Regions from separate parts of the Homo sapiens genome. Here all the other regions are linked to region 1. The links come from fine-mapping of genetic effects on gene expression. A gene starts in region 1. Each other region holds a variant in brackets. All regions are shown on one strand. Distances are between the middles of the regions. Region 1 holds the start of ELOA-AS1 (ELOA antisense RNA 1). Region 2 overlaps ELOA (elongin A). Region 3 has its middle 9.6 kb from the start of MIR378F. Region 4 has its middle 13 kb from the start of MDS2.

Region 1 (8,104 bases):
GTGAGAGGCAGAGAACAGGACCCTAGCCCTGCCCCATTCTCTCCATATCTCTAAATCTGTGTGCCTGGAAGGGCCTTGTGTCCACGCATGCAGAGGTCCTAACCTGTGTGCTCACACTTTGTTCTAGGGGTTCTAAATTGAAAAGGTCCCTCAGGTATCCAGCACAATGAATGACAAAAGAGACCAAAGCACAACAAAAATCATCACATTCTAGAATACCAAGAGAAGATCTTAAAAGCTTCCAGAAAACGGGGTGGGGTGGGGGGAAAACCCATAAAAAGAATCAGGATTCAGAACAGCATTGTATTTATCAAAGCCAGAAGAAAACCAGAGCAATTTCTTCACAATTATGAAAGAATTCTATCCACAGCCAAACTACTAATTAAGTACAGTAGAATAAAGCCATTTTCAGTGCCACTTAACATGTATGGCAGCATGGTAGCCAGCCACTAAGGTGGCCTCTAATGATTTCTACCTCCTGGTATCTGCACTCTTATGAAGTTCCCGCACACACTGAATATGGCTGACCTGTGAAACCATGGGATGTTGCAAAATTGACAATATGGGACTTCTGTGGCTAGGTCATAAAAGACATTGGTGGTTTCTACCTTGCCCTTAGATCACTTGTTCTGCTGAAAACCAGCTGCTGTATCATGAGGACACTCAAACAGTACTATTGAGAGGTCCATGTGTTAAGGAACTGGGGCCTCCTGCCAAGAGCCTGCACAAACTTGCCAGCCGGGGCTTCTCCAGCCCTGGCCAAGCCTTCATATGATTTCAGGCTCATGAGAGACCCCAAGCCAGAACCACCCAGCTAGGACGCTCTCAAATTCCTAACTCACAGAAACTGTGAGATGATAAATGTTAATTGTTGTTTTGAGGAGAGAGGCCATTTCTCTTACTGTCTCTGAAGAGAAGGAAGAAGTAAAAGCTGAAAAACAACAGGAATGAAGTCAGTGGCAAGACCAACTGATGCCACTTACCAGGCCTGAGGTTAAAGATTAACGCCCCCACCCTAACCACATGTGTTACCTATAGATCACTTGCTCAATCTATCACAACCCTTTCACGTGGACCCCCTTAGAGTTATAAGCCCTTAAAAGGGCCAGGAACTTTTTCTTTGGAGAGCTTGGTTCTTGAGACACAACTCTGCCAACGCTCCTGGCCGAATAAAGTCTCTTCCTTCTTTAACCTGGTGTCTGACAGGTTTTATCTGCAGCTTGTCCTGCTACAGTTTTAAGCCATTAAGTTTGGGAATAATTTGTTACACAACAAAAGACAACTAATACAGACCTACTGGGAGGGGAGGAGCCACAGTATTTTGCAGTTCTTCCAATCAGGAGGTGAAGTCTACAGTCTAGCTCTCCACTCTAGAATTTGGATTTGGCTGATGGGTCATTATAGAAAGATTATAGATGTAAGGCTTAAAAAGTGCTTGTGCTGGCAGGGCGCAGTGGCTCATGCCTGTAATCCTAGCACTTTGGGAGGCCGAGGTGGGCAGATCACCTGAGGTCAGAAGTTTGAGACCAGCCTGCCCAACATGGTGAAACCCCATCTCTACTAAAAATACAAAAATTAGCCAGGCGTGGTGGCAGGCGCCTGTAATCCCAGCTACTCGGAAGGCTGAGGCAGGAGAATCGCTTGAACCCGGGAGGGGGAGGTTGCAGTGAGCGGAGATTGTGCCACTGCACTCCAGCTTAGGTGACAGAGCAAGACTCCATCTCAAAAAAAAAAAAAAAAAAAAAAGTGCTTGTGCAATTGAGTCTTGCCCTCTCTTGCTCCTGGGAACTCTGCAATTATCACCATGTAATTTAGCTAGGCTTGTCTGCTGGAGACACGTGGTCCCATCATCCCAGCTAACAGCCAGCATCAAGCAGACGAGAGTGAGACCATCCCAAACTTTCCAGCCCAAGCTGAACTGGCCCAGAAAAGCTAATCCACAGGATCATGCGAATTAATCAATGTTTGTTGTTTAAAGCTATCAAAGTTTTAGGGTAATCTGTTACACAGCATAAGCTAATTGATACAGCATATTTACTTTGTGTGCACCTCCCGCCTCAACCTCCCCACCCTAACCAGGAAACTACTGATGTGTTACAAGAACACTACAGGATGTGTTCAAAGCCTGGTTACCTCCTAACTTTACCTAGTCTCAGACAAGTTAGTTTGCCTCTTTCAGCCTCAGTTTTCCTCATCTTCAAATTGGAGATAACAGTAGGTAATAGCACCTAGCTCTCTTTTTTTTTTTTTTGAGATGGAGTCTCGCTCTGTCGCTCAGGCTGGAGTGCAGTGGCACAATCTCGGCTCACTGCAACCTCTGCCTCCTGGGTTCAAGCGATTCTCCTGCCTCAGCCTCCCGAGTAGCTGGGATTACAGGCACACGCTACGATGCCTGGCTAATTTTTCTATTTTTAGTAGAGACGGGGTTTCACCATGCTGGCCAGGCTGGTCTCAAACTCCTGACCTCAAGTGATCTACCCGCCTCGGCCTCCCAAAGTGTTACAGGTGTGAGCCACCACACCTGGCTGTACCTAGCTCTTAAAGTTCATGTGACAATTAATTGAGATGAACTACATAATGTGCTTAGCACACAGTGCTCAAATAAATCATTAATGAAGGCAACAGGAAAAAGCCAAAATGAGTAGATCTCCGGGGTAAGGCCTGAGTTGGTTCTTCAAAAGGACACTCTTACCAAAGAAAGGCTACCAAGTATATCAGTCAAGTAAACATTTACTGTTTGCCACATTCCAGGTCCCTTACCTGAAACTGTGACCTAAAAGCAGGAATAATTCACGGCACTGAGCTATTTTGAAACAGAACCAAGCTTGCTTATTGCACAAGTAACTAAAATAGGACATCAAAATATTTTTCTTGTTTTTATTTTTTTGAGACAGTCTTGCTCTGACACCCAGGTTGGAGTGCAGTGGTATGATTACAGCTCACTACAGCCTCACCCTCCCAGGCTCAGGAGATCCTTCCACTTCAGCCTCCCAAATAGCTGGGACCACAGGCATGAGCCACCATGCTGGGCTAATATTTTTAATTATTTTTGTAAAGATGGGGTCTCCCTATGTTGCCCAGGCTAGTCTCAAACTCCTGGGCTCAAGTGATCCTCCCACCTTGGCCTCCCAAAAGTGCTGAGATTACAGGCATGAGGCACTGCATGTGGCCCAGAAAATATTTCTGAATGGAACTTGAAAAAATGGATATTTTGGTCTATACTTCACCAGCCCCACTGAGCACTCCAGAGCCAGATGTGAAGGGAAGAGGGTAGCCAGGGTATCCCATAACTCTCTTTCTGTATCCTGTCTTTTCCCCACCAGGGAGTAGGAAAACATTCTATCCTGAAAACAAGATTATTTCACCTCTAAACAGTGACTTTTAATTATTTTGATCTCAACCCACAATATGAAAAACACATCATATTGTGTCTGAATACAAACTCAAAACTGAAACAAAAGTTTCATCAATTGAGACTTGAAATGTGTGATACATTCTGGGTTTTTTTTTTTTTGTATTCTATTTTTTTTTTAAATGTTGATCACAATTCTCTATAAACGGATTTTAAAACCTATTGACAGGCCACAACCAGCTGTTCGAAAAAAAGTACTTTGAAATATCACATGGGGGAGGAAACGCAGAGATCATCTAGTCCAATCCCTTCACTTCACAGGGGGTAAACTGAGTCTCAGAAGATCAAGTCACTTGCCCAAGGCCACGCAGCTAGTAAGTTGCTGTGGTTGGATTTGACCGTAATAACCATCGGCTACTGAATGCCCATCATGTGTCAGCCATTTGCTGAGTTTTTTCTTTTTTTTTCTTTTTGAGACAGAGTCTTGCTCTGTCGCCAGGCTGGAGTGCAGTGGCGCGATGTCGGCTCACTGCAACCTCTGCCTCCCGGGTTCAAGCGATTCTCCTGCTTCAGCCTCCCGAGTAGCTGGGACTACAGGCTCGCGCCACCACGCCTAGCTAATTTTTGTATTTTTAGTAGAGACGGGGTTTCATCATGTTGGCTAGGATGGTCTCGATCTTTTGACCTCGTGATCCGCCCGCCTCGGCCTCCCAAAGTGCTGGGATTACAGGCGTGAGCCACCGCGCCCGGCCTGCTGAGTTCTTTAATTGCATTATTTCATTTAATACTCACTGTGATCCTATGAAACAGATACTATTCTTTCCACCTTACAGACGGGGAAACGGAGTCTCAGAATAGGGGAAATGACTTAAGGTGTCACAATGGCCAGTAGCAGACCCAGGAGTAGTCTTTAGGTCTGGCCGTGCACAAAGCCCCATGCTCTCAAGCTGTAACCCCGCTATCAAGAAAGTGGTTATGCAAGTGGGCCTGTGAGCTCTCAACGTCTAAGCCGTGCGCATGTGAGACAGCGATAAGCTCGCGTTCTCCAGTCTCCAGGGCCTTATCATTCCTCACGCTTTCCTTCATCGGCTCGCAAAGAAACGTGGCGATCAAGGAAGACAGCGAAGGCTCCATCCTCGTCGGGGGAGGATAATTCGAATCTCAGCCTGTGAGTTTACTCAGCACACCTGTTTAATCTCTTGGTCCTTCAGTTTCCACACCTAGGAAGCTGGAACAGCAGCAGCATCCAGCGCCAGGACTGGAGTCATATACGAACTCTGGCACCTGGGAGGCGCGCGTCCTACGTCAGTTCCGCTCGACCCCACCCCCCCCGCCCCCCCGCCTTCTCCCCACGCGCATGCGCCGCGCAGCGGCGCTTTTTACGACGCGGCAGGCGCGGCGCGCTTAGTTGCCGGAGCTGAACGGCGCGGAGCTGGTCTGAGGCGAGCCGAGCCGAGCGAGCGCGGCGGTGGGGCCGAGAGGACGCGCAGGTGGCGGCGTTGCCATGTCGCACGGTCACAGCCACGGCGGGGGTGGCTGCCGCTGCGCCGCCGAACGGGAGGAGCCGCCCGAGCAGCGCGGCCTGGCCTACGGCCTGTACCTGCGCATCGACCTGGAGCGGCTGCAATGCCTTAACGAGAGCCGCGAGGGCAGCGGCCGCGGCGTCTTCAAGCCGTGGGAGGAGCGGACCGACCGCTCCAAGGTGGGCCGCCTGGGGCTTGGGGCGGGCGGGGCAGGGTGCGTGTGGGGCCTCGGGCCGTCGGTCTACTCATTTCTGATGTTAAGAATAACGACAGCCTGGTTGCCAAGCGCTTTTCCGTGCCTGTCTCCTGCCAGCTCTTTGGGAGGCGAGCAGCGTTGTCTCCCCATTTTGCATATAGGGAAACTGAGGCCTAGAGGGAACGGGGACAGTTTTGTCAAGCTACACAGCCTAACGCTCTATTCCAGGGCTGTGTGGGCTAGAGAGGATGGTCGTGAGGGCCGTTGGACCATTGGTGCTAATGGCTGCCTCATCATATTACCTGGTGAAGATGAGCCTAGGGAGATGAAAGGTGGTTCCCATATAGAGCAAATGTTCTTTACATTGTGGGGTCGCAGGCCCCTTTGCTATCTGTTTGAAAGCAGTGGACCTTCTTCTCAGAAAAATGCACATAAACACCTGCCTTTCAGTTCACACTTCAGAAGGCTCTTCGACCCTGGAAATTCATTCATGGGCTTTTTGTTAAGAACCTTCCAGTTGGGTGGCCTGTGGCTGTTATGACACTGGATAAGACTGGTTAGCTTCAAGTTAATAAGTCTTGGAAAACCAAGGGAGAGTGACTCTTCCCATTGCACCCCAGTTGTAGAGCAGGGTGGGAGATGCCTGAAATTGTAGGCTCTCAGCAAATATTTGTTGCTTTCTCCTCCCCCCTCCCCATCCCCTCCAGTTTGTTGAAAGTGATGCAGATGAAGAGCTTCTGTTTAATATTCCGTAAGTATCTCCTTGGTGCCTACCTCAGGCTAAATAGGCTGTACCCAGTTGCCTCAGATGGATTCATTCACTGGTGTCAAGAGCACACATTTGCTTCTAGAAATGGGATAAATTACTTTGGTGGGTTTGAGGAGGAAAGCATCATAGCTTTCTTGGTGCAGACTGGAAACAGATGTATTTGTAGAACAATAACTGAGAAATTGAGGTAGATTTCTTAGAATTGTAGAATGCTAGAGGTAGACAGGATCTTAGAAATTATCTAGTACAAGTTGACAGATGAGTAAACTGAAGCCCATACAGGGGAAGGGTCTTGCCCAGGGTCACACAACTAAACAGGTATTCAAACTCAGGTTTGACAACCTTCTCTTTTGCATTCTGGCAGATTTACGGGCAATGTCAAGCTCAAAGGCATCATTATAATGGGAGAGGATGATGACTCACACCCCTCTGAGATGAGACTGTAAGTGGCAAAGGCTTAGGCCCTCAAAGGAGCTCCTAATTCTCTTTTTCTGGTAACATTTTATTCCAGAATAGTATCATTTTCTTCTTACCGGGTTTAATATTTCCCCTTTTAAAATATCTTGGTCCTGTTCTCATTCTGCATTGGAATACATATATTTCTTCCTGAATTAATGACTTTTTTAGATTAAGCATCTTTAGGCCCAACAGCGTGTCTCATATTTCAAAGTGCTTACTATGACATGATTCATTCAGAGAGCATTGTGTAAATGTCACTTGTTGATGACTCTGCAGTTTTCTTAATAACTAGCTGCAGATCTCATATGATCTTTATGGATTCTAGGGGTTAGCTTCAACATTTTTCCTTGCTATTTCATACAGTAATGATCTTATGTGTTTTGTTGACATGGAATTGCTCCACCTGACTTTGCGTGGCATTTAGTTAGCAAAGTTGTGTATACCTCTTGCAACACTGAATCTTTTGCCACCAGAGCTAGTACCCTTTTTGACAACTTACCTTATTCCAGAACAGCCTTCCTAAAAGAAGGGGAAAACTGCTTTCTGAGTGCTGGAGAAACATATAAGAAGAACTTTACATTTAAAAAATTCAGTCCGGGTGCAGTAGCTTATCTCACAAAACCAATAAAAGATGATATATAGGCTGGGCACAGTGGCTTACACTTGTAATCCCAGCACTTTGGGAGGCTGAGGCGGGCGGATCACCTGAGGTTCGAGACCAGCCTGGCCAACCTGGTAAAACCCCGTCTCTACTAAAAAAACAAAAATTAGCTGGGCCTGGTGGTGCGTGCCTGTAATCCCAGCTACTAGGGAGGGTGAGGCAGGAGAATTGCTTGAACCTGGGAGGCGGAGGTTGCAGCGAGCCGAGATCTCGCCACTGCACTCCAGCCTGGATGACAGAATGAGACCCCATCTCAAAAGTAATAATAAAAACAAATAAATAAAAAATTCAAATCCTAAAGGCCGAGCATGGTGGTTCACACCTGTAATCCCAGCACTTTGGGATGCCGAGACTGGTTAGGAGTTCAAGACCAGCCTGACCAAGATGCTGAAACCCCGTCTCTACTAAAAATACAAAAATTAGCCGGGCATGGTGGCACACGCCTGTAATCCCAGCTACTTGGGAGGCTGAGGCAGGAGAATCGCTTGAACCCAGGTGGCAGAGGTTGCAGTGAGCCAGGATCGTGCCACTGCACTCCAGTCTGGGTGACAGAGCAAGACTCCATCTCAAAAGAAAAAAATAATTCAAATCCCAGCACTTTGGGAGGCCGAGGCGGGCGGATCACTTGAGGCCAGGAGTTCAAGATCATCCTGGTCAACATGGCGAAACCCTGTCTCTACTAAAAATACAAAAATTAGCTGGGTGCGGTGGCACAGGCCTGTAATCCTAGCTACTGGAGAAGCTGAAGCATGAGAATCACTTGAACCGCGGAGGTGCAGGTTGCAGTGAGCCAAGATTGCACCACTGCATTCCAGCCTGGGCAACAGAGTGAGACTCTGTCTCAAAAAAAAAAAAAAAAATTCATCTGAAAAATTGATTAAAGGACTTCCAGAGATTTAAGATATATTATAGTTGAGTATTAGAAACATGAATTTGAAAGCAAATCCATGTATTTAATCATTTTAAGGAAATAATACCTTTGATGCTTTTGGAGACTCATTTACTTGGAAGTTGATGGACTGACCTGAGAATATTAGGCATCCATGCTGCATTGTGATTTAGAGTGTGGGATCTGGAGTAAACTGGGTTCAAATAATGGCTGTACCACTTGTTAGCTTCATGACTTTGAGACCTTATCTTCTCT
Region 2 (8,104 bases), 20 kb before region 1:
TTCTGCAAGTTATATGACCTTGAGAAATATCTTAATTTCTTTGGACCTTAGTTGTATATATTGTGTAAATGGGAGTTATAATGGTATCTGCCCCATAGGGCTCAGTTTAATGAATTCAGAAGTGATGCCTTTTTGCTCTGGGTTTATCACATAGTAATTGTTCAGTAAATTGCTGCTGCTGTTATTAGCAGCCCTTTATCCTATGTGTTACATAGGATTTTTGTCTGAAAGAAAAAAATGTCTAATTTTCATAGCAAAAGAAGTAGAAGCCACATAAGGGTCTATCAGCAGGAGACTAACAGATAAATCATGGTTCATCTACACAGTGGCATCCTATGCCACAGTAAAAAAAAAATGTGGAAAGTCTATGCACTGACATGGAATGATCTCTCAGATGTGGCAAATGAAAAAAAGCAATGTATGTAGTGAGTATGTTATTAATTGATTCATTGGCTTAAAAGGAATAAGATACATTTGCTTTTTTTTGTTGTTGCTGTTGAGAGTCTTGCTGTGTTACTCAGGCTGGAGTGCAGTAGCTCCATCTTGGCTCACTGCAGCCTCCACCTCCTAGGTTCAAGCAATTCCTCTGCCTCAGCCTCCTGAGTAGCTGGGACTACAGGTGCATGTTGGGCAGGCTGATCTCGAACTCTTGACCTCAGATGATTCATGTGCCTTGGCCTCCTAAAGTGCTGGGATTACAGGAGCTTATTTTTAAATTCTCTGGAAGGATCTACAAAAATCTGTAGCGTGGATTGCCATTGGGAAAGGGAAGTAGGAGGCTGAAGGGGGTAGAAGGAGAGTTTTCACTGGATCACTTAGGGCCTTTTGTGTTTTTCTTGCCCTATAGCGTTCTCTTCACCCCAGGAAGAAGAAGAAGCTGGATTTACTGGGCGCAGAATGAATTCCAAGATGCAGGTGTATTCTGGTTCCAAGTGTGCCTATCTCCCTAAAATGATGACCTTGCACCAGCAATGCATCCGAGTACTTAAAAACAACATCGATTGTAAGTCACACGCTTCTCTCTAGCTCTCAAGCACATTGTAGCACTTGGACCTTATCACTGGGTGGCTTGGCTGCTACTCAGTGTCTTCACCTTTGGTTTCTCTGCAGCAATCTTTGAAGTGGGAGGAGTCCCATACTCTGTTCTTGAACCCGTTTTGGAGAGGTGTACACCTGATCAGCTGTATCGCATAGAGGAATACAATCATGTGAGTATTCTGTTTGGGTGGGAAGAGGGCAGTTTTCTGGCTTGTACCTCCAGAAATAGCTTTGTCCCTGTGACTCCGCTGTGGCTGAAGGGCAGATCAGTGGTCAGAGCATTGTTCTGGATATATTTGGTTTGCCACTGGGCCTTTAAACAAGCATGTTATTAGCACTTGCTCCTGGCACCTTAAGTGGGCCTCTTGGGCTAGGATCAGGGTGGGATTCAAAGGGAGAAGAAAAACACTTAACATCTCCCTTGAGCTTGCCTAGTCATGAAGGTAAAGGGAGAATTCTGGCAGCAGAGTAGCTGGGACCCAGGGCGGGGAAAGCACTTTGTGTTGACACTCTGACATCTGGTGATTGGCTGGATGTCTCTTAAGAAACATCAAGATTTATCCAGAATCCTCCTTAGGATGTAGGGTATACACATTTGATTGCATCAGCTGTCTCTCTTTAATTCTGAAAGTTCTATGACCTAACACCTTTTTTTTTTTTTTTGGAGATAGGGTCTACCTCTGTTGCTTCGACTGCAGTACAGAGGCCTAATCATGGCTTACTGCATCCTTGAACTCCTGGGCTTAAGTGATCCTCCCAAGTAGCTGGGACTACAGGCACATACCACCACAGCTGGCTAATATTTTTATTTTTTAGAGAGATGGACTCTCAGACTCTTGGCCTCCTGAAGTGCTGGGATTACAGGCATGAGCCAACGCGCCTGGCCAATAACTTAACATCCTTCTTAGGTTGCCCCTTTGCCATCACAGTTCAGCGTAGTGTTGGGAAGTACCTGATTTGACTTGATCGCAGTTCTACCCTTTGCTGATTTTCTAAAGGAAAAGACTGATGTTACACAGATTTTTGTGATATTCTGTCACAGCCACCAAAAGCAACTAGCATAGTGCCTCACACTTCGCATTTTTAAAATTTAGGGAGTTATTTTTTTCCTAGAATTGTGGTATTTTAACATACTACTAAGATGAAGACCAAAAAATTTTTGGGAAACTGGTCACTCCTAGGTAATTAAATAATCAGAAAAAGATATGAGGCTGGGCATGGTGACACACGCCTGTAATCCCAGCACTCTGGGAGGCCAAGGTGGGCGGATTATCTGAGGTCAGGAGTTCGAGACCAGCCTGGACAACATGGCAAAACCCCATCTCTACTGAAAATATAAAATAGCTGGGCGTGGTGGTAAGCACCTGTAGTCCTGGCTACTTGAGAGGCTGAGGCGTGAGAATCGCTTGAACCCAGGAGGCAAGGGTTGCAGTGAACCAAAATTGCACCACTGCACTGCAGTCTACACGACAGAGCAAGACTCTGTCTCAAAAAAAAAAAAAAAATATGGAAAAGTGCTTGTACACAAATGATGTCCTGGTTCTGGTTTCAGGTATTAATTGAAGAAACAGATCAATTATGGAAAGTTCATTGTCACCGAGACTTTAAGGAAGAAAGACCCGAAGAGTATGAGTCGTGGCGAGAGATGTACCTGCGGCTTCAGGACGCCCGAGAGCAGCGGCTACGAGTACTAACAAAGAATATCCAGTTCGCACATGCCAATAAGCCCAAAGGTAACAGAGACGGGAGAGCTGGGGGAGAACTGGCAGGATGAGTGTTCTGGTCAATAGCAGGGTGTTGGTGGGCTTGGCTGGTGTAGGACTGCTTGCCCCTACATCAGGTAGCAGGGTGGGTATTTCTTCTGCCACCGCCCATTCTACCCTACAAGTGGGGTTTCAGGGCACTCAAAAAGCCCGTGGATTATTTAAATAACAGTAGCATCTCTGCTCAAGAAGGCAGATGTTCATCTCCATAATTCCACAGGCCGACAAGCAAAGATGGCCTTTGTCAACTCTGTGGCCAAGCCACCTCGTGACGTCCGGAGGAGGCAGGAAAAGTTTGGAACGGGAGGAGCAGCTGTCCCTGAGAAAATCAAGTAAGATCTGTGTTCTTACCTGGCTTTTGTGTGCTATCAACCCTTAGAGGTAGCCATAGCGGCAGGAAGCAAATTGCTTTTGGTGAAAGTGAGGCAGTGCAGACTGTGGGCTCTGGAGGCAGACCTCATCAGCTCAGCACTTCCCTCACCTCCCTCAGCCTCCGCTTCTTGGACTGCAGTGCAAGGTGATAATTACCCCTGCCCTAGGGTAGTCAAGATTAAATGGAGAGCAAAGCCTGGCTTATGGGAAACATTCCCTTATGCTTTCCCTTTTCCCATCTAAACAAAAAACACATTTCTGCAATGATTGTTATTTTGTCTAAGCCACATTAGCCTTTTCAAAATACAGATTTATACCAAAACAGTGAAAAGTTAGTTGAGATTATCATTTTTTCTGAAAGGATAATGGAGACATCTCTGAGCCACCACCAGAATCCAGGGTGATAGGGTCCATTGGTCAAAGCCACAAACAGGGTGAGTCATCCTCACACAGGCCAGCTTCAGGCTGTTCATGCTCAGGGCAGATTTCTTGTGCTCATGCCTAACCAGTGTTGTCCTGTGTTGCAGGATCAAGCCAGCCCCGTACCCCATGGGAAGCAGCCATGCTTCCGCCAGTAGCATCAGCTTTAACCCCAGCCCTGAGGAGCCGGCCTATGATGGCCCAAGCACCAGCAGTGCCCACTTGGCACCAGTGGTCAGCAGCACTGTTTCCTATGATCCTAGGAAACCCACTGTGAAGAGTAAGTAACTTGGAGTTCCTGCTCAAATATTATTTCAGCACTAGTTTTTAACTCTCAATGTCATTATTCACTGTATTACATTTTGTGGACTGCATGTTGCATGTACATGATGCCTTGCACATAGCTGGTCTGAATGTCAGTCCCTCCTTCCCCCTGCTTTGTCCATAGTGCATTATATCTCTTAAATAGTTATAGTGAGTCTGGGTGCAGTGGCTCATGCCTGTAATCCCAGCACTTTGGCAGGCTGAGGCAGGAGGATCCCTTGAATCCAGGAGTTCAAGACCAGCCTGGACAACATAATGAGACCCTCTACAAAAAATTAAAAAATAGGGCATAGTGGTACACACCTGTAGTCCCA[C/G]CTACTCAGGAGACTGAGGTGGGAGGATTTTTTGAGATGGAGTCTCGCTCTGTCACCCAGGCTGGAGTGCAGTGGCACAATCTCAGCTCACTGCAAGCTCTGCCTTCCAGGTTCATGCCATTCTCCTGCCTCAGCCTCCCAAGTAGCTAGAACTACAGGTGCCCACCACCATGCCCACCTAATTTTTTCTATTTTTTAGTAGAGACGGGGTTTCACCATGTTAGCCAGGATGGTCTCGATCTCCTGACCTCGCGATCTGCCCGCCTTGGCCTCCCAAGTGCTGGGATTACAGGCGTGAGCCACTGTGCCCGGCCGACCCTGTCTCTGGAAAAAAAAAAAAAAAAAAAGTGAAAGTAGAAAATAGTATCTGGCCAGGCATGGTCCCTGTCTCTATTAAAAATAGAAAAATTAGCCCACCATGGTGGCATGTGCCTATAATCTCAGGTACTCGGGTGGCTGAGACAGGAGAATTGCTTGAACCTGGCAGGCAGAGGTTGCAGTGAGCTGGGATTGTGCCACTGCCCTCCAGCCTGGATGACAGAGTGAGACACTGTCTCTAAATAAATAAATAAATATCATTGTGAATGACCATTTTGGCACTCTTCTTTTTTCACCTAAATATAAACTGACTTCTCTAGGCAATACCACAGTGTTCATAATTACTAATATTAACAGCTAAATGACAGGCCCTCTTACTGTTTTTTTATAGTCTTATAACTCTAGCTTCCAAATATTTATTCTTTATATCTAATTGGGTCTTCCAATTTATTTATTTATTTTTTTTTTTTTTTTTTTTTTTTTTTTTTTGGAGACAGAGTCTCACTCTGTCGCCTGGGCTGGAGTACAGTGGCGTGATCTCGGCTCACTGCAACCTCCACCTCCCAGGTTCAAGCGATTCTCCTGCCTCAGCCTCCCAAGTAGCTGGGATTACAGGTGCCCGCCACTAAGCCCAGCTAATTTTTTGTATTTTTAGTAGACACGGGGTTTCACCATGTTGGCCAGGCTGGTCTCGAACCCCTGACCTTGTGATTCGCCCGCCTCAGCCTCCCAAAGTCCTGGGATTACCAGCGTGAACCACCATGCCTGGCCGGGTCTTCCAAATATTTATTCTTTATATCTAGTTGCGTCTATTTTGTATTTTGTTAACTTTATTACCATAGACTATCCCCAGTATCCTAAGGGGATGTCCTAACTTAAGTCTTATTCTGTATTAATTGCAGGGCCCATGGGAGGGTGGGAGTCCTGGCTTGAGCTACAGCTATGCTCAGATGAACCATTCAGGAGGCAGGCTGGCCTTCCTTAGGCAGTACTTGCATAGCCACCTTAGACCTGTTTCTACACTGGACAGATTGGGGGTAGACGTGCTGTTTACTGGTTTGGCTATTTGTGAGGCAAAGTTAAGTTATGACTGAGTATGGCCTTTAGAGTCTGGCAAGGGCCGGGGCACAGTGGTTCACACACACCTGTAATCCCAGCACTTTGGGAGGCTGGGGTAGGAGGGTGCTTGAGCCCAGGAGATCGAGACCAGCCTGAGCAACATAGTGAGACCCTGACTCTACAGAAAATAAAAAAAAATTAGCCAGGCATGGTGGCACACTCCTGTAGTCTCAGCTACTCTGGAGTCTAGGAGGTAGAGGCTACAGTGTGCTGTGATTGTGCCAATGCACCCTAGCCAGGGTGACAGAGTGAGACTCTTTCCTTACAAAAATAAAAACAAGAAAGTCTGACAGAGATTGAATTGTAATTCTGTACCTTACTGTACAACCATGGGCAAGTTGGCCAGGCTCTCTGAGCCTTGGTGCAGGTGGTTAGAGAGAGTGGTGGTCATGCCCCTGGCAGGTCCTCCGAAAGTGTCTGCTCTGTGCTGTTGCTTTTATTGCATTGTGAACAGAGGAGATAGTTACTACTTGTATCTCTGCCTGGTGGTGCACAGCCAAGAATAGCAGAGCTGGCTTTGACTGTAAACTACTGGGGGTGTGTCTAAGCCGCCACAGATCTGAGACAGCTGCCTTGTTTCTCTTTTCACAGAAATTGCCCCAATGATGGCCAAGACAATTAAAGCTTTCAAGAACAGATTCTCCCGACGATAAACTGAGGACTTGCCTTGGAAATGGAATCTGGGGAGGCAGGAATACAAGGACAGTGGGGGTTGGGGAATGGAATTCTACAGGAGACTGGAGTCTTGCTTTGTGGATCCTTTTGGTCTCCGAGTCCTGCAGTCTGCAGGTGCTGCCCCTGGGAACCTGCGTGCCACAGCCCCGCCTCCCTGCCTGGAGCACACTTTAGAATTCTGAAGATGTGAAGCCTCTGTCTCACTGAGGATTTTAAAGGTCAATTATACTTTTGTTGTTCATTAGCATCTTTGTAAACTATAAGACGTAGTTTTAATTAATAAATATTGCCCCCAGATTGTATTTATATTATCCCCCAGGTTTGTTTTTGTTTTTTGTCCTCTACCACACATTTAGCCTTTTATCTTCCAGGTCCTTATTAAAATCAGATGAAAGCCTAGTGAAAGCCAGTCTCCTGCCCCAGCTCAGCTCTGTGTGGACTCTGGTCCAGACAGAGGACTGGGCATCTCCAGAGCCTGCACAGTACCTGCTGCACGTAGGGCAAGGAATGAGCACTAGACCGCCTGTCCCCAAGGGAGCCTCAGTGGGGCGACAGGGTGCTCGGCGGACTCCACCTCAGGCCCTCCCCACTGTTGCTGTGCATTCCTGTGCAGGTGCATCTCTTTCTTACTAACTGGTATTTATTAAGGGAGGTGCTCTGTAGGTCTGGAGCCTTTCCCTCATCCTTTTTGCGAGTCCCCACCTTTTTGTTTTTTTTTTTTTCTTTGAGGCTCACTAGAGGACGCAGAACCTTGGGAGATTGATTTGCACAGAACTCCCCACCTCCCACTTTTACAATTTCCAGTTTCTGATTGAAAATTTTAGGGTTTCTCCCCACTGCCCTTCCCTATCTTTCCTTCCCCTCAACACCATGAAGGAAAAACACACACGGCAGGGCTTTTTGTAGCCCTGAAGGCAACTTTAGACATTTAAAATCCAGCACTTTAATCTCTTGTTCTCTGTGAATCACTATGAGAAGTGAATGGTTTTAAAGGCTGTAATGCTATGTTGGAAATTGGTTTGTTTTGCCTTTTATTGAAAAGGTAAGATCATGTGATTGGAAGAACACAACTGTTGGCTTGGGAAGAGGACTTTGCTGCTGAAGTGTTTTCTACCTTCTGAGTGTGTTTAAGGCAGGATTTGGAGGGAAGGACCAGCTTAGGGAGAGTGTCTGAGCCACAGCGTCAGGATGGGGGAAACCACATGGGATCCATCAAGTTCCAGTTGAACAGGAGCAAGATCAGAACTTAGGAGGGCAGTGTCAGCTCCCTTGTTGGCTGTCAAGGAACACCGATCTAGTAGAAACCCACTTGGTTGTGACCCAGGTAGAGGTAGATGCCATACATTTGAGATATGCGTCCTTAAGGAACCTGACAAGCAGACTGAAGGGATGGTAAGTGTGACAGCCTGATAAGTTTTCTCAAAGCCCAGGATACAGAGCCAGTGTTTTCTGTAACTGGAGACCTCAGTTAGGCCAACTTCGAATTCCAGAGCAACGTAGGAAGTCTATTCAGCAGAAACTCGACATTGTTCAGTGTGTATTGCTGTGCAGGGTGCCTATTGTGACAGGACACAAATGTTACTATGTTTTAATTTGCTATATTTTTGAATGGGTAAAGCATTACTTTACTTCTCTTGGTTACTTGTACCACCATTCCACCCCTATCCCTAGCCTGCCCCACAAATCTAATATTAGGAAGCCTCTTAACTGAAACCAAATGAACATTTGGGTCAGGTGCCAGATGTCTGCTGCCTAGAATAG
Region 3 (8,104 bases), 160 kb after region 1:
GCCTCCCAAAGTGCTGGGATTACAGGCATGAGCCACTGCACCTGACCTGTTCTATCAGTCTTAAGATCTGTTTTAATGTTAATGCTGGTCAGCTGTGTCTGAATTCCAAAAGGGAGGAGGGAATAACGAGGCATGTCCAACTCCCCCTTCCCATCATGGCCTGAACTAATTTTTCAGGTTAACTTTGGAATGCTCTTGGTTGAGAGGAGGATCCATTCAGATGGTTGGGGGACTTACAATTTTATTTTTCATTTGCAAAATATACCAATTTTCATAATCCCATTGAAACTACCTTTGCCCTCTCCCTCTCCCTCCCCCTCCCCCTCCCCCTCCCCACAGTCTCCCTCTCCCTCTCTTTCCAAGGTCTCCCTCTGATGCCGAGCTGAAGCTGGACTGTACTGCTGCCATCTCGGCTCACTGCAACCTCCCTGCCTGATTCTCCTGCCTCAGCCTGCCTAGTGCCTAGTCACGCGCCGCCACGCCTGACTGGTTTTCGTATTTTTTTGGTGGAGACGAGTTTCCCTGTGTTGGCCGTGCCAGTCTCCAGCTCCTAACCACGAGTGATCCGCCAGCCTCGGCCTACGGAGGTGCTGGGATTGCAGACGGAGCCTCGTTCACTCAGTGCTCAATGGTGCCCAGGCTGGAGTGCAGTGGCGTGATCTCGGCTCGCTACAACATCCACCTCCCAGCCGCCTGCCTTGGCCTCCCAAAGTGCCGAGATTGCAGCCTCTGCCCGCCCGCCACCCGGTCTGGGAAGTGAGGAGCGTCTCTGCCTGGCCGCCCATCGTCTGGGATGTGAGGAGCCCATCTGCCTGGCTGCCCAGTCTGGAAAGTGAGGAGCGTCTCTGCCCGGCCGCCATCCCATCTAGGAAGTGAGGAGCGCCTCTTCCCGGCCGCCATCACATCTAGGAAGTGAGGAGCGTCTCTGCCCGGCCGCCCATCGTCTGAGATGTGGGGAGCGCCTCTGCCCCACCGCCCCGTCTGGGATGTGAGGAGCGCCTCTGCCCGGCCGCCCCGTCTGAGAAGTGAGGAGACCCTCTGCCTGGCAACCGCCCCGTCTGAGAAGTGAGGAGCCTCTCCGCCCGGCAGCCACCCGGTCTGGGAAGTGAGGAGCGTCTCCGCCCGGCAGCCACCCCGTCCGGGAGGGAGGTGGGGGGGTCAGCCCCCCGCCCGGCCAGCCACCCCGTCCGGGAGGGAGGTGGGGGGTCAGCCCCCGCCCGGCCAGCCGCCCCGTCCGAGAGGGAGGTGGGGGGCGCCTCTGCCCGGCCGCCCCTTCTGGGAAGTGAGGAGCCCCTCTGCCAGGCCACCACCCTGTCTGGGAGGTGTACCCAGCAGCTCATTGAGAACGGGCCATGATGACAATGGCGGTTTTGTGGAATGGAAAGGGGGGAAAGGTGGGGAAAAGATTGAGAAATCGGATGGTTGCCGTGTCTGTGTAGAAGGAAGTAGACATGGGAGACTTTTCATTTTGTTCTGTACTAAGAGAAATTCTTCTGCCTTGGGATCCTGTTGATCTGTGACCTTACCCCCAACCCTGTGCTCTCTGAAACATGTGCTGTGTCCACTCAGGGTTAAATGGATTAAGGGCGGTGCAAGATGTGCTTTGTTAAACAGATGCTTGAAGGCAGCATGCTCTTTAAGAGTCATCACCACTCCCTAATCTCAAGTACCCAGGGACACAAACACTGCGGAAGGCCGCAGGGTCCTCTGCCTAGGAAAACCAGAGACCTTTGTTCACTTGTTTATCTGCTGACCTTCCCTCCACTATTGTCCTATGACCCTGCCAAATCCCCCTCTGGGAGAAACACCCAAGAATGATCAATAAAAAAATAAATAAATAAATAAAATAAAATAAAATAAAAAGAGAAACTACCTTTGCAAAAATTATAACAGTAAGAAAATCATGGCAGTAAAAGAGATCTGATCTAATCCACACCCATCTTGCCTTTCCCTTAATTATTCCTGGGCTTTGGGGCTGAGCTAACTTTGAGAGACATTTAGTTTATACTTTAAATGATAATAGGCCTTCCCCAAAACTCAACTGTCTTTGTTAAGCCAATGAAAGGTCATCAGGCTGTGGGAGGAGAGGAATCTGAATTCTGCTAAGGTGAAGAAATTGTTTAATTGCCAGCCACTCCTGCAGGTAACACCACTATTGTAGATTGGCCTTTTGAGTATCTTTTCAGTTTTTGGAAGTCTGAAACCAATGGCTCCACCCGTACCTGGCTCTGCCTCTACCCACCGACATTGCTCCTGTGGTCCCACTCAGAAGTAGTTCAGCACTCAGGACAGCTTCCACCCCCTATGATTTCATCTCTGTCCCAACCAATCAGCAGCAAGCCTAGCCACCGCAGCCCTTCCTCGAAAGTGCCTTTGGAAAACTCCTAAACTACCAGCTTTGGATGAGATTTATTTGAGTCCTAATTCTGTCTGTCACATTGTGTGACCGGCCTCATGTCTATTGTACTCTTTCGTTACTGCAATGCTGTGGTCTTTGTTTATGCAGCAGGCAGGAAGAATCCATTGGGTGGTTACATCATTAACCCTTACATTTTTATGTTCTAGTTTCAGAAAATTCTCTTCTCTACCCCCGGACCATATTGGGGGAACCCACCCTCAATATTTCAACATAGGTTCTTTCTATTTTCCATAAGTGTAGGCCGGCTGAGAAATAAAGAGAGACAGTACAAAGAGAGGAATTTTACAGCTAGGCTGCTGGAGGTGACATCACATATCAGTAGGACCGTGATGCCTGCCTAAGTCTCAGACCAGCAAGTTTTTATTAAGGGTTTCAAAAGGGGAGGGGGTGTAAGAACAGGGAGTAGGTACAAAGATCACATGCTTCAAAGGGCAAAAAGCAGAACCACTAATAAGGGTCTAACAAAGATCACGTGCTTCTGAGGGAACAGCTAGAATTACCATATGATCCAGAAATTTCACTTCTGGGCGTACACCCCAAAGAATTGACAGCAGGGACTAGAACAGCCTGTGAATACCTATGTTCGTAGCAGCCTTATTCACAATAGCCAAAAAGGGGAAACAACTCAAATGTCTGTTGACAGATCAATGGATAAACAAAATGGGAATATACATACAATGGAATATTATTCTGCCTGAAAAAGGAAGACAATTCTTTTTTTTTCTTTTTTTTCTTTTTTTTTTTTTTTGAGATGGAGTCTTGCTCAGTTGCCCAGGCTGGAGTGCAGTGGCGCAATCTCGGCTCACTGCAAGCTCCACCTCCCAGGTTCACGCCATTCTCCTGCTTCAGCCTCCCGAGTAGCTGGGACTACAGGCGCCCGCCACCATGTCCGGCTAATTTTTTTTTGTATTTTTAATAGAGATGGGGTTTCACCGTGTTAGCCAGGATGGTCTTGATCTCCTGACCTCGTGATCCGCCCGCCGCAGCCTCCCAAAGTGCTGGGATTACAGGCGTGAGCCACTGTGCCTGGCCAAAAGGAAGACAATTCTAACATATGCTACAACATGAAGGAACTTTGAAAACATTATGGTCAGTAAATTAAATAAGCTACAAGACACAAGAGGACAAATATGACACAAGAGAATAAATATTGTATGATTCTACTTATATGTGTTACCCAAAGTAGTCAATTGCATAGAGATAGAAACAGAAAATAGAATGGTGGTTGCAGGGTCTGGAAAGAGAGGAGGAGTGCAGAGTTATTATTATTATCATCATTATTTTCAGACGGAGTTTCAGTCTTGTTGCCCAGGCTGGAGTGCAGTGGCGCCATTTCGGCTCACTGCAACCTTTGCCTCCCGAGTTCAAGTGATTCTCCTGCCTCAGCCTCCTGAGTAGCTGGGATTACAGGCGCCCACCACCATGCCCAGCTAAGTTTTGTATTTTTAGTAGAGACAGGGTTTCATTATGTTGGCCAGGCTGGTCTCAAACTCCTGACCTCAGGTGATCCACCTGCCTCGGCCTCCCAAAGTGCTGGGATTACAGGCGTGAGCCACTGTGCCTGGCCCAGAGTTATTGTTTTATGGGTAGAGAGTTTCAGTTTTGCAAGATGAAAGGAATTCTATAGACGGGTGGTGGTGAAGATTGTACTTAATGCCGCTGAACTGTACTCCTAAAAAGGGTTAAAATAGTAACTTTTATGTCATGTGTATTTTACTACAAAAAAAAAAAAAAAAAGAGAGAGAGAGAGAGACTGGGCACAGCGGCTCATGCCTGTAATCTCAACACTTTGGAAGGCTAAGGTGGGAGGATCACTTAAGCCCAGGAATTCAAGACCACCA[G/T]CCTGGATGATATAGTGAGACCTTGTCTCTAAAAAAAAATTAAATTAAAAAAAAAGTGATGGGATACTTCTGAGATTAGGTTGCAGAAAGACGATGACTTCTACCTTGCAAGCTCTCATCCTCCCTAACTTACCCTGAGGGAAAACAGTTGCCATAATGTAAGCTGCCCCGTGGAGAGGTCCACAAGGCAAGGAAATGATGCCTCAAGTCAACAGCCATGCGGTGAGTTTGGAAGTGGATTCTTCTCAAGCCAAGCCTTGAAATGACTGCAGTCTGTGATGACACCTTCATTGCAATCTTGTGAAAGACTCTGAACCAACTCTCAATCTTGAGAGAGCCTCGTCTTCTGGACGAGCTAAGCTGCACCCAGATTTCTGACCTACAGAAACCGTGAGTAAAACGTGTGTTGTTTCAAGCTGCTAAATTTTGGAATAATTTGTTATGCATCAATAAATAACAAATACAGCTGTTACACTTTCTATAAAAGTGTGTTATTGAATATACTTTTATATAATACTATAAAACTTTTTTTAATTTGGCAATCTATTTTGACACTTACCTTTAACAAAACATAACTTTTCTTTTTCTTTCTTTCTTTTTTTTTTTCTTGAGATAGGGCCTTTCTCTGTCGCCCAGGCTAGAGTGCAGTGGTAAAACCATGGCTCACTACAGCCTCAACCTCCTAGGCTCAAGTGATTCTCCCACCTCAGCCTCCTGAGTAACTACAGGCATGTGCCACTACGCCTGGCTAATTTTTTGTTTTTTGTAGAGATGGGGTCTTACTATATTGGCCAGGCTGGTCTGGAACTCCTAGACTCAAGCAATTCTCCTGCCTCGGCCCCCACTAAGTGCTCTGATTACAAGGATGAGTGACCACGCCTAGCCATGAAAATATACTTTTCTTCAACTTGATTTTTTTATTTTTTATTTATTTATTTTTTTAGATGGAGTCTCTCTCTGTCACCCAGGCTGGAGTGCAGTGGTGTGATCTTGGCTCACTGTAGCCTCCACCTCCCGGGTTCAAGCAATTCTCCTGCCTCAGCCTCCCAAGTAGCTGGGACTACAGATGTGCACCACCACGCCTGGCTAATTTTTGTATTTTTAGTAGGGACAGGGTTTCACCATGTTGACCAGGCTTGTCTCGAACTCCTGACTTTGGGTGACCCGCCCACCTCGGTCTCCCAAAGTGCTGGGATTACAGGTGTGAACCACCGTGCCCAGTCCAACTTGATTTCTTTAATGCCACAGTATGGGGCACAGTTTAGGACATGTTACCCCAAAATATGGCCTCTTTGACATTTGAGAAAACAGCAGAAGCATGAAGGGCTCTCTGACTTTCCACTATTCTTCCCTAAAGTAAGCCATGAAAGAATTCTCTGACTTTCCTTTAAAGCTGGAGTTATTCCCTGTACCCAGAGGAAGGGAATGAAGACACAGACACAGAGAAGAATTAGGACAAATAGGTTAAGTTCCCCTGGTGTATTATCAGAAAAGGTATTGGATTATACATTTTCTTCTTCCAGTCATACTTTGCATAACTGTCCATAAAACTAAAGTTTCCCCTGTTTCTTTCTTTGAGTCTTCATTTCTTTTTGTTTTCTTTTCTTTTCTTTCTTTTTTTTTTTTTTTTGAGACGGAGTCTCACTCTGTTGCCCAGGCCAGAGTGCAGTGGCAAGATCTCGGCTCACTGCAGCCTCTGCCTCCTGGGTTCAAGCAATTCTCCTGTCTCAGCCTCCTGAGTAGCTGGGATTATAGGCGCCCGCCACCACACCCGGCTAATTTTTTTATTATTTATTTATTTATTATTATAATTATTTTTGAGATGGAGTCTCGCTCTGTTGCCCAGGCTGGAGTGCAGTGGTGCGATCTCAGCTCACTGCAAGCTCTGCCTCCTGGGTTCAAGTGATTCTCCTGCCTCAGCCTCCTGAGGAGGTGGGACTACAGGCGCCTGCCACCACGCCTGGCTAATTTTTTGTATTTTTAGTGGAGACAGGATTTCACCGTGTTAGCCAGGATGGTCTTGATCTCCCGACCTCGTGATCTGCCCGCCTCGGCCTCCCAAAGTGCTGGGATTACAGGCGTAAGCCACCACGCCCGGCCTATTTTTTATTTATTTATTTTTTTTGAGATGGAGTCTTGCTCTGTTGCCCAGGCTGGAGTGCAATGGCGCGATCTTGGCTCACTGCAACCTCTGCCTCCTGGGTTCAAGCGATTCTCCTGCCTCAGCCTCCCGAGTAGCTGGGATTACAGGCGCTTGCCACCACGCCTGGCTAATTTTTACACCTGGCTAATTTTTGTATTTTTAGTAGAGATGGAGTTTCACCATGTTGGCCAGGCTGGTCTTGAACTCCTGACCTCAGGTGATCCACCCGCCTTGGCTTCCCAAAGGGTTGGGATTACAGGCATGAACCACCGTGCCTGGCGGAGTCTTAATTTCTTAGTCACCTATGTCACATAAAATTTGTATTAAATAGATTTATTATGCTTCTCTGTTGTTCTATGTTCTCTCTTTTCTTTCTTTTTTTTTTTTTTTTTTTTTTTTATTAGACAGAGTCTTACTCTGTCGCCCAGGCCTGACTACAGTGATGCAATCTTGGCTCACTGCAACCTCTGCCGCCCAGGTTCAAGCGATTCTCCTGTCTCAGCTTCCTGAGTAGCTGGGATTACAGGTGCCTTCCACCGCACCCGGCTAATTTTTGTATTTTCAGTAGAGACGGGGTTTCACCATCTTGGCCAGGCTGATCTTGAACTCTTGACCTCATGATCCACCCGTCTTGGCCTCCCAAAGTGCTGGGATTACAGGCGTGAGCCACCGTGCCTGGCCTATCTGTTCTTTCTTATGGGCTCTCAGCCGTGAATCCTGCGATGCGTAAGGGAAAGATCATCTTCTCTCCCTTACAGATGCCTAATTAATTACGTGAGGCCATGCCTTTTTTATACATGCATTTTTTCAACAGACACAGAGAAGTTTGAATAGGCTGCATCCTGTCAGTCAAGGGAATAGTTTGGCAAACAGGCAGCCATAATGGGATTTCCTACCGGGTTTCCAGGAAGGAAAGTCCCTGTGTATAGAGCCTGTAACTCTTATGCGTCCAGATCCTTGAAAAGGAAGGAAGAAGGGAGGGCTTGAAGTGTCAACTTTGCCAGGGTCTTACCAGATAAGGGCTGCCAAAAGGAGAACCCTGAGCCACAGTATTTGGTGGCAATTGTGGTCCTTGTATGTGGTCAATGCCTGCTCCAGGATCCTTCTAGTGGAGATAGCTGTCACAGAACTATTAGATACCATAGTTGATCTACATTTCATTATATTAGATTTTAAGGACATACAAGCAAATATATTACCCCTGAGATCAGGCAAGAGAGGCCCTTGCTCTGGGCTCCACAACCCCTTGCTCTGGGGTTAGAGAACCCCATGTCACAAGCATACATCAAATTAATTTATTAAATAAGATAAAAGTGAAATATTAGTCAGGGCACGGTGGCTAACGCCTGTAATCCCAGCACTTTGGGAGGCCGAGGCGGGCGGATCACCTCAGGTTGGGAGTTCAAGACCACCCTGACCAACATGGAGAAACCCTGCCTCTACTAAAAATACAAAATTAGCCGGGCATGGTGGTGCATGCCTGTAATCCCAGCTACTTGGGAGGCTAAGGCAGGAGAATCGCTTGAACCTGGGAGGCAGAGGTTGTGGTGAGACGAGATTGAGCCATTGCACTCTAGCATGGGCAAAAAGAGTGAAACTCCATCTCAAAAAAAAAAAAAAAAGAAAAGGAAATATTAGAATCAAATTACAAACAATAACTGTTAATGACACAGACAATTATCATTCTATCTTGAAATAAAT
Region 4 (8,104 bases), 160 kb before region 1:
GACATTGGATTAAATATGTTACTAAAATAGAATTTAAAAAAAGATGCTGCTCAAAAATCCTTCTGCTATGCAGCCATCCCAGCCTCTCCCAGAGTTTGGTGGCTTCTCTCCTGCCTTGTCACAGGGTTTGCATGTGTCTCTATTATAGCTTTTATTTTTTTATAGCTCTGTCACCCAGGCTGGAATGTAGTGGCGTGATCTCGGCTTACTGCAACCTCCGCTCTCGGTTCAAGCGATTCTCATGCCTCAGCCTCCTGGGTAGCTGGGATTACAGGCACATGCCACCATGCCCAACTAATTTTTGTGTTTTTTGGTGGAGATGGGGTTTCACCATGTTGGCCAGGCTGGTTCAAGACCTCAAGCAATCCACCCATCTCAGCCTCCCAAAGTGCTGGGATTACAGGCATGAGCCACCACACCCGGCCTGTTACAGCTTTTAGAAGTTATATTGTAGTTGTCTGTTTAGGGTCTGTCTCTCTGACTAGCCCAGGAGCTCCTTGAGGGCAGGAACTATATCTTGGTCATCTCTACTCCTAATTCCTTGCATACAGCCTGGCACACAGCAGATGCTCAGCAGTAATTAATAAAGTGGATGACTACATGTATGTGAAAGCAGTGTGAATTGCAGTGAGAATTTTATTATTCTTCCATACCTGGAGTTCTAGGTGAAAACAACAGGATACATGCCACATAAACCCTGATCAAGGCTCTGGCAGGGAACAGATGGTATAACCAAATGGGTAATTTGTAAAAAGTTTAATGAAGGGACTACTAACAAAGGTGTGGACAAGGTTTAGGAAAACCAGGGGGAATGGTGCAGTACCCCAGGGCTGGCAGGCAATATGAGGAGCTGTTACCACCTGTGGCCTGAAGGGTGGGGAGGGAGAGGTCACCTGGACCCATGGCCAGAGATGTATGCACAGGGCTGCCTGATAGGAGCTGTAGGCTTCGGGTGAGGGACACAGCCAAGGTGGCAACCCTGTAGGAAGGGGCTGGGGAATAAATACCAGTCCCCACTTGCCACCTGTCCTCTGTCCTCTTGCCTCACCCAGCCAGAAGCCAGAGGGCAATGGGGGCCATTGATGTCACCCACAAAGGTCACCTAATCAAGGTACAGAACAGGTTGAGGAAGGGCAGAGGAGAGTTCTAGAGGGGCAAACAGAGAGATCCAGCATGAGAAAGAACATAATACCCTCAGGATCTTTAAAGGACTTCTGGATATGCTTATAAAATACAATAAATGCTGGGTGCAGTGGCTCATGCCTGTAATCCAAGCACTTTGGGAGGCCAAGGCGGGTGGATCACGAGGTCAGGAGATCGAGACCATCCTGGCTAACACGGTGAAACCCCATCTCTACTAAAAATACAAAAAATTACACAGGTGTGGTGGCACACACCTGTAATCCCAGCTACTCGGGAGGCTGAGGTAGGAGAATTGCTTGAACCTGGGAGGTGGAGGTTGCAGTGAGCCAAGATCGCACCACTGCAAATCCAGCCTGGGCAACAGAGTGAGACTCCATTTCCAAAAAAAAAAAAAATTAGCTGGCTGTGGTGACACACACCTGTAATCCCAGCTACTCAGGAGGCTGAGGCAGGAGAATTGCTTGAACCCAGGAGGCAGAGGTTGCAGTGAGCTGAGATGGCATCATTGCACTCCAGCCTGGGAGACAGAGTGAGACTCCATTTCAAAAACCAAAAAAAAAAATACAATAAATGGCCATACACAACAATAATCATTAGCACTTAAGCACCTACTGTGTGTCAGGTGCTGTGCTAATCCATTTTCCAGTTGTGGAAACTGAGTCTCAGAGAGGCTAAGCAACCTGCCCAAGGTCACACAACAGGAAGTAGCATAGCCAGGACTGGAACACAAGTGGGCCTCAAAGTGCAGGTTCTCATCACCTGGTAGCAACTACCTATTGCTAGGCACTATTTCCAATCCAACAAAGCTCTACAAGGTCAGTGTTTTTTTCCAGAAACTTAGAGAGGTCAGATGATTTCTCCAGGGCCACACAGCTCATAGGGGGTGGGGGTAGGGGCAGGGAAGCAGGGTTGGAGAGTTTGCCATTAGTTGGAGCAGGTGACTGGCAGATTGCACGGTGGCAGCCTCAGGGATTTTTTTAGCCCCAACGGGTGGAGCCACCTCTCACCAGGTGCCTCCCGGAGTCACTCCCCAGCTGCAACCACAGGATTTAGACTTTCAAAGCTGGGCAGGGCCCTCAGCATCCTCTAGGCTGCCTCTTGCCTGTGACTTTAAAACTAATAATAATGATCGCAGTCAGCCATGGCTTCCTGAACCCCTGGTGTACTCATTCATTGTCTTTCTCTACATTGTCGCTAATCTGACCACAACTCTCCTTTAGGATTGTACAACATCTACAGGCAGGTATCATGGGCTGCTCATTTTGTAGAAGAAGTCTGAGGCTTAGAAGGCAAATGACTTGTCCACGATCGCGAGGCAAGTCAGACCCTTCAGAGCCAGACCCTGACCCCAGGGCAGTGTATGCAGCTTAGAGCACCGATCCTGGACCTGGAAAGGCTGCATCCACATCCCCAATTGCACCTACCAGCTGTGCTGACCTTGGACAAGTCATTTCTCTGCATCTTAGTTTCCTCATCTATGAAATAGGAACAGCAATAGCATCTGCTTCATCTGGTTGTGGTAAGGATGAAATGAATGATAATACATAAAGCACTCAGAGCAGTTATTAGAAACACACCAAGGGCTTTATAAGCATTGTATCCTGGAGTCCACTGAGCTTTCCAACCTTGTCTGAGGAGGCTCTTAAAATTGCTTCTGTGTGACCCTGGCTTTCATAGTAATCAACTGAATGGTTCCCACCAGGGCCATGCACTATGCTTCACAGGCCATGCTTGCCCCATTCAGCCCTCACCATCACCCTGTCCCCATTTTGCAGACAAGGAAACTGAGGCCCAGAGAGGAGTTATGACCTGCTCAGGCCTCCACATCTCAGAAACTGCAGAGCCAGGGGGACTTCTCCCAAGTCGAAGCTGGTAGTCCCCCCCTCCCAACCGCAGGAAACCCAGATTGTTATGATTACTGGTATTGTTGTCCAAAACAATACTGGAGACGATGACAATACAACAATCATGGAGGGTGCTTATTTCCACTGGCTCAACAATTATCCCAACGCCCATATGGAGGGGGCCTGGGGCTTCAAGAAGAGGCTTCTCGAGGCAGGATGAACAAACAAGCAGTGAAAAGCCTGCAGCTGGGCCCCAGGTGCTGGAAGAGAGAGTGGGGCAGGAAGCGGGCAGGCCATTTCTTTCCTCTTCTTTCTTATTTGTTTGAGAAGCAACTTTACTTTCTAAATCGGTCATTGTCACCCGTTAGCCCCCGCCCCACCTGGGCCAGGGCCTCTGGTGACGGGAGCTCAGGAGGAAGCTCTAGGGGGCAGGAGGGATGAGGGTGCGAGGTGGGGCAGGGCCTGGGCCCAGCTGGACATGGGGGCTTCTTTCCTGCAGGGGCCTCATAGGCCACCTTCAGGTGACCTGGGCCTGGCAGACAGTACCTGCTGGAGGTGTGACCTGAGTCCTCCAGGTTCAGCTGCCAGTGGGGAGGGGAGGGAACCCTCATCAACAGGGAAGTAGCTGGCACGGTGGTCAGGGGCCTGGCTCTGGAGTCAGACCCATTTGGCTTCCACAGTCTGTCACCTCGGGCAAGTTACTTCACCTCTCTGAAAATGGGATGGTTTGTTGTGAAGATTAAAAATAATGAAACCACATGACACATGGAAAGCATTTAACACGTTTACTAGCACTTAAGCACATTTACCACTGGAGATTTACTTAAGAAGCCAATAGGTATTGGGCATTTACTATGCACCAGGCACTTTTAAAGCATTCTACACGTATTAATTCATTTATTTGGCACAATTAACATTCTTCCCACTTAACAGATGAGAAAACTGAGGCACACAGAGAGGTAGAGTTCCTCACACAGGGGCAGATCCAGGCTTGGCAGGATGTCAGTAAAGGTTATACAATACTGAGGGCGGGGGGGTCTCTTTAAATAATGAAGTACAAGGCCATGCCAATGAGGGACCCAGGACTTAAACCTCACCATCCTCACCTTAAATCTCCCTCTAAGCTCTGCCGCCCTGCTAGGAAGTGGTAGCAGAG[G/T]CCAGGTGGCTAGCTCCAGAACCCGTAAGAGTTATAAGCACTATTGAGAGTACACGAGACAGTCACTGCAGAATGCCACACAAATAAGAGGCAGCACTTCCATTGCATGTACCATGGGCTACACACTCATTTAACCCTTCCAGGAACCTAATGAGGGTGGCATATTATTACCACGCCCATTTTACAGATAAGGAAGTCAAGGCTCAGAGCGGACCAATGGTTTGCCTGAACGCACAGTGCTAAGGAGTGGTAGACCAGGATTCCAGCCCAGGCAGCCTGATCTCAGGGGCCACCTGTTTAGCCACTACAATAACTGTCACCTCGCTCATGACTGGGGCTCAGCACCTTCCTCTCACCTCCCCTTGCAGGCTCTCCCATCTGTTCCCTGACAGCAGCTTGGGGTGTGGACAAGACACCCCTGCTTTGGAGTCAGAGATGCCTGGATACTAATCCTCACCCTGTTGCTTGCTCGCTGTGTGTCCCTGAGACAGTCTTTTCCCATCTCTGAGCCTTAATTTTCTCATCTGTAAAATAGGAATTGTGCAATTTATAGGGTGGTCATGAAATGCAGATACATCAATTATTATTTTATGTGTTTTGTAACATACTATCAATAAGCCATGTATTTAAGTAAGTAAGTTGCCTTTGGATACCACTTCATAGGGTGGCTTGGAGAGTCAGAGTAAGGCGAAGAGTCTGGCCCATATTAAATGCTCAGGACCGGTAGAGATCACCATGCTGGGGACAAGGGGACAAGTCATTTGTGAGGAGTCAGGGGAATGGAGAAATGGACAAAACCAGATGTTGGGATGCCTGCATTCTGGAGGGATTTCTACCACCAGCTTGTGGTGTGACCTTGGACAAGTCACTCCCTCCTTTCTGAACTCAGTTTCTCCATTTGCAAGTTGTAGGCATCGCTCCTCACTAATGCATGAATGAAACTGTCTCTAAGGTCCTTAAGAGACTGAATTTCTGGGTAGGAGCACAGGAGCATCTTCTGGGTCTCTCTGAGGGCTGCTCCCATGAAGTCTCCCCCCTACTCTTGGGGTGCTTTTCATGGCTCCCACTCTTGAGACAAACAGGAGGGTTTGCAGGGAACTCATACATCTCATCTGCTCCAGCAGAACCACAGTGCATGGCTCAGCTCGTGGGCTCTGCAACTGGATAGCCTTGATCTAATCTGTTTCTCACCTGTAAAATGGAGATGAAGATAATATAATAGATGTCCTTATCCTGAGTTCATAGAGGAGGAGACGGAGGTTCCAGGAGGCACAGGACTTGCTGGAGGTCATGGCTCTCACCTTGCCCTTGTCCTACTGCCTCTGGCCCACCCTTCTACAGATATGGGCTTTCCCTATGGGAATCCCAGCTTCCTCTCCCCATCCTAGAGGATTGGGTCACATTGTCTTTTGCCCTCTGCCTGACATCCTGTCTCTCCTCTCTCCCCATCTGGCAAACTCATCCAGTGGAGGTGGGCCAGCCCTGGTGTCCCCACTTACGAGCACGGTGACCCTGAGTAAGCCTCCCACCCTCTCTGGGCCCCATCCCCTCCCCGACGTCACAGGAACAACGTGGAAACGCTTGGCACACCCAGTGCCTGACCCATGGTGAGTGCTCATGAAATGTCATCTCAAATGTTGTCTCCTCAGGGGGCTGCCCTGGGGCCTCCATGTGGACCAAATTTCTCTGGGCTTGCAAAACCCAGTCCCTTCAGCACTTATCACCCTGTATCATAACCATCCACCATCAGGTCTGTATCCCACGCATCCTCAGATCCCTGTGTCTTCTTTACATCCACTGTGTTTGGCATAGGGACTGATACAAAGGAGGCACTCAGTTAAAGATTGTTCAATGAGTGAGTGAATGAATGAATGAATAAATGAATAAATGAATGAATGGTGCCTGAGTGGTGCTACATTGCACCGGGGTAAGCATTTCTCAGTGTCTCTCACTCAGCCTTCTCTGTCACCCTATGGGGTGGGTGTTCTGTCATTGCCCCCATTTCACAGATAAGCAAACAGACTCTGCTGGGGGAGGTGGCATAATCAGTGTTGGTGAAACCGGGTCCCAGAGCCTTTCCATGTCAGGTGAGGGTGGGTGGTTGGAGCCCAGAACAGTGAGTGTGAGTGACCCCTTCCAGAATTTGCCTTTGACCATTACCTCCTTGTAGAACTTCTCTCCTCCCTCGAAGACGCTGCTTCTCCCAGAACCTCTCTCATACCCCTCAGTCTCCTTCCCAAGTTCCAGCCAACCCTTGAATATTAGTGTTCCCCAGGGTTCTGCCCTCAAGCCTCATTGTAAACTGAGGCAGGGCTGGAACCTCTTTTGTCTGCCCGGCATATTTTTCCAATCTTCTCATTTCCTGTCCATGTGCTCTGGTCAGGTATCCCTCACAGGGCCCCACCCACTGGGAAGGCAAGTAGGCCAATTACAGTGTCCCATTTTCCTTGATATACAGTGATTGGTTTGGGCCTGGGCATGTGATACAAGCTGAGCCAATCAGAGCCCTCCCTGGAACTTTCGATGGAGCCAGTGGCGAAGCTTGGCTCTCTCCTGAAATGAGAGCTGGTAGGATGTAAACATTTGAGCATCTTTCCTGGGACTGGAGAATGCCTATCTGCCATGGGAGAGAAGGCCCATTCTTTTTTTTTTTTTTTTTTTGTTTGAGACAGAGTCTCACTCTGTCACCCATGCTGGAGTGTGGTGGTGCGATCTTGGCTCACTACAGCCTCCGCCTCCCGGGTTCAAGCAATTCTCCTGCCTCAGCCTCCCAAGTAGCTGGGATTATAGGCACTCACCACCACACCTGGCTAATTTTTGTATTTTTAGTAGAGTCAGGGTTTCACCATGCTGGCCAGGCTGGTCTTGAACTCCTGACCTCAAGTGATCCGCTTGGCTCAGCCTCACGAAGTGCTGGGATTACAGGCTTGAGCCACCATGCCCGGCCGAGAAGCCCCATTCTTAAAGAAAGGCAGAGACAAACAGAACTGACTGATGGGTGTGATGGGGAGATAACCCAATGTCATCACTGGAAACCCTGGATCCAGCAATGCCCGAAGTTTGACTCACCCTTGAAACTCTAAGATAAAGGGGCCACTACGTTTGTAGTATCGTTTTTCTTTTTGTTTTGTTTTCCATAACCTAATTTGAACTGAGTTTCTGTCACTTACGACCAAAAGATTCCTAATATTCTCTCTCTCTTGCCTCTCCCTCGATGATCTTGGGTCTTATCTAGTCCTATATCTGGGTGTGTAGTGCAGTCAGTTCTTGAGGAAATGGACATCTGGGAGGTACCTCAAAGGTGACCTCGCTCTGCCTGCCACCTTCCTGGGTTAATGCTGTCATCATCTACCTCAGCTCCTGATACAGGAAATTCTGTCACCTTTATTTTGTGTCTCTCCCTCTAATTGTTCTCCTGGATCTACTGCTGTTCAGTTTCAGAAAGTTCTTGCCCAACTCCCCCCCACCCCACCCCATTGCCATTACCTTGGTTCAGGCCTCCTTCAGCTCACCACAACAACTTGAATCTGTCCTCCCTTTCCTCCCCCTTTGTCCATCCTCCATACCTATTATGGAGATTTTTTTTTTTTTTGAGATGGAGTCTCACTCTGTTGGCCAGGCTGGAGTGTAGTGGTGCAATCTCGGCTCACGGCAACCTCCGCTTCGCGGGTCCAAGCAATTCTCCTGCCTCAGCCTCCCAAGTAGCTAGGACTATAGACACGTACCCCCACACCTGGCTAATTTTTGTATTTTTAGTAGAGACGGGGTTTCACTATGTTGGCTAGGCTGGTCTTGAATTCCTGACCTCAAGTGATCCACCTGCCTTGGCCTCCCAAGGTGCTGGGATTACAAGTGTGAGCCACCATGCCCAGCCTACCACAGAGATCTTTCTAGAACCCACAACTGACCATGTCACTCCTGCTGCAAACCCTGCGTGGCTCCCTGTCAACCTCAGGATAAA

What was found.
Region 2: its variant is fine-mapped to the expression of ELOA-AS1 in whole blood (TOPMed, PIP above 0.99).
Region 3: its variant is fine-mapped to the expression of ELOA-AS1 in whole blood (TOPMed, PIP 0.99).
Region 4: its variant is fine-mapped to the expression of ELOA-AS1 in blood mononuclear cells (TOPMed, PIP 0.96).

What each region holds. Positions count from the first base shown.
Region 1 is chr1:23,773,660-23,781,763 of GRCh38, forward strand. ELOA-AS1 (ELOA antisense RNA 1) reads right to left here and starts at 4,638. Exons shown (of 4, transcript NR_038280.1): 1 at 4,540-4,638. PITHD1 (PITH domain containing 1) reads left to right here and starts at 4,759. Exons shown (of 6, transcript NM_020362.5): 1 at 4,759-5,054; 2 at 5,779-5,822; 3 at 6,205-6,282. The coding sequence starts at 4,857. RefSeq lists enhancers at 3,483-4,435, 5,689-6,888 and silencers at 4,689-4,998, 5,089-5,138.
Region 2 is chr1:23,753,253-23,761,356 of GRCh38, forward strand. It overlaps ELOA (elongin A), which reads left to right. Exons shown (of 11, transcript NM_003198.3): 6 at 848-1,003; 7 at 1,111-1,208; 8 at 2,591-2,771; 9 at 3,022-3,133; 10 at 3,701-3,873; 11 at 6,260-8,104. The coding sequence ends at 6,321. ELOA-AS1 (ELOA antisense RNA 1) reads right to left here. Exons shown (of 4, transcript NR_038280.1): 4 at 7,130-7,899. Among named protein-coding and RNA genes, the nearest start is that of ELOA, 14 kb to the left of the region's middle. The variant C/G (reference allele first, on the strand shown) is at 4,232.
Region 3 is chr1:23,934,660-23,942,763 of GRCh38, forward strand. No RefSeq gene overlaps it. Among named protein-coding and RNA genes, the nearest start is that of MIR378F, 9.6 kb to the left of the region's middle. The variant G/T (reference allele first, on the strand shown) is at 4,261.
Region 4 is chr1:23,610,003-23,618,106 of GRCh38, forward strand. No RefSeq gene overlaps it. Among named protein-coding and RNA genes, the nearest start is that of MDS2, 13 kb to the right of the region's middle. RefSeq lists an enhancer at 2,818-2,867. The variant G/T (reference allele first, on the strand shown) is at 4,144.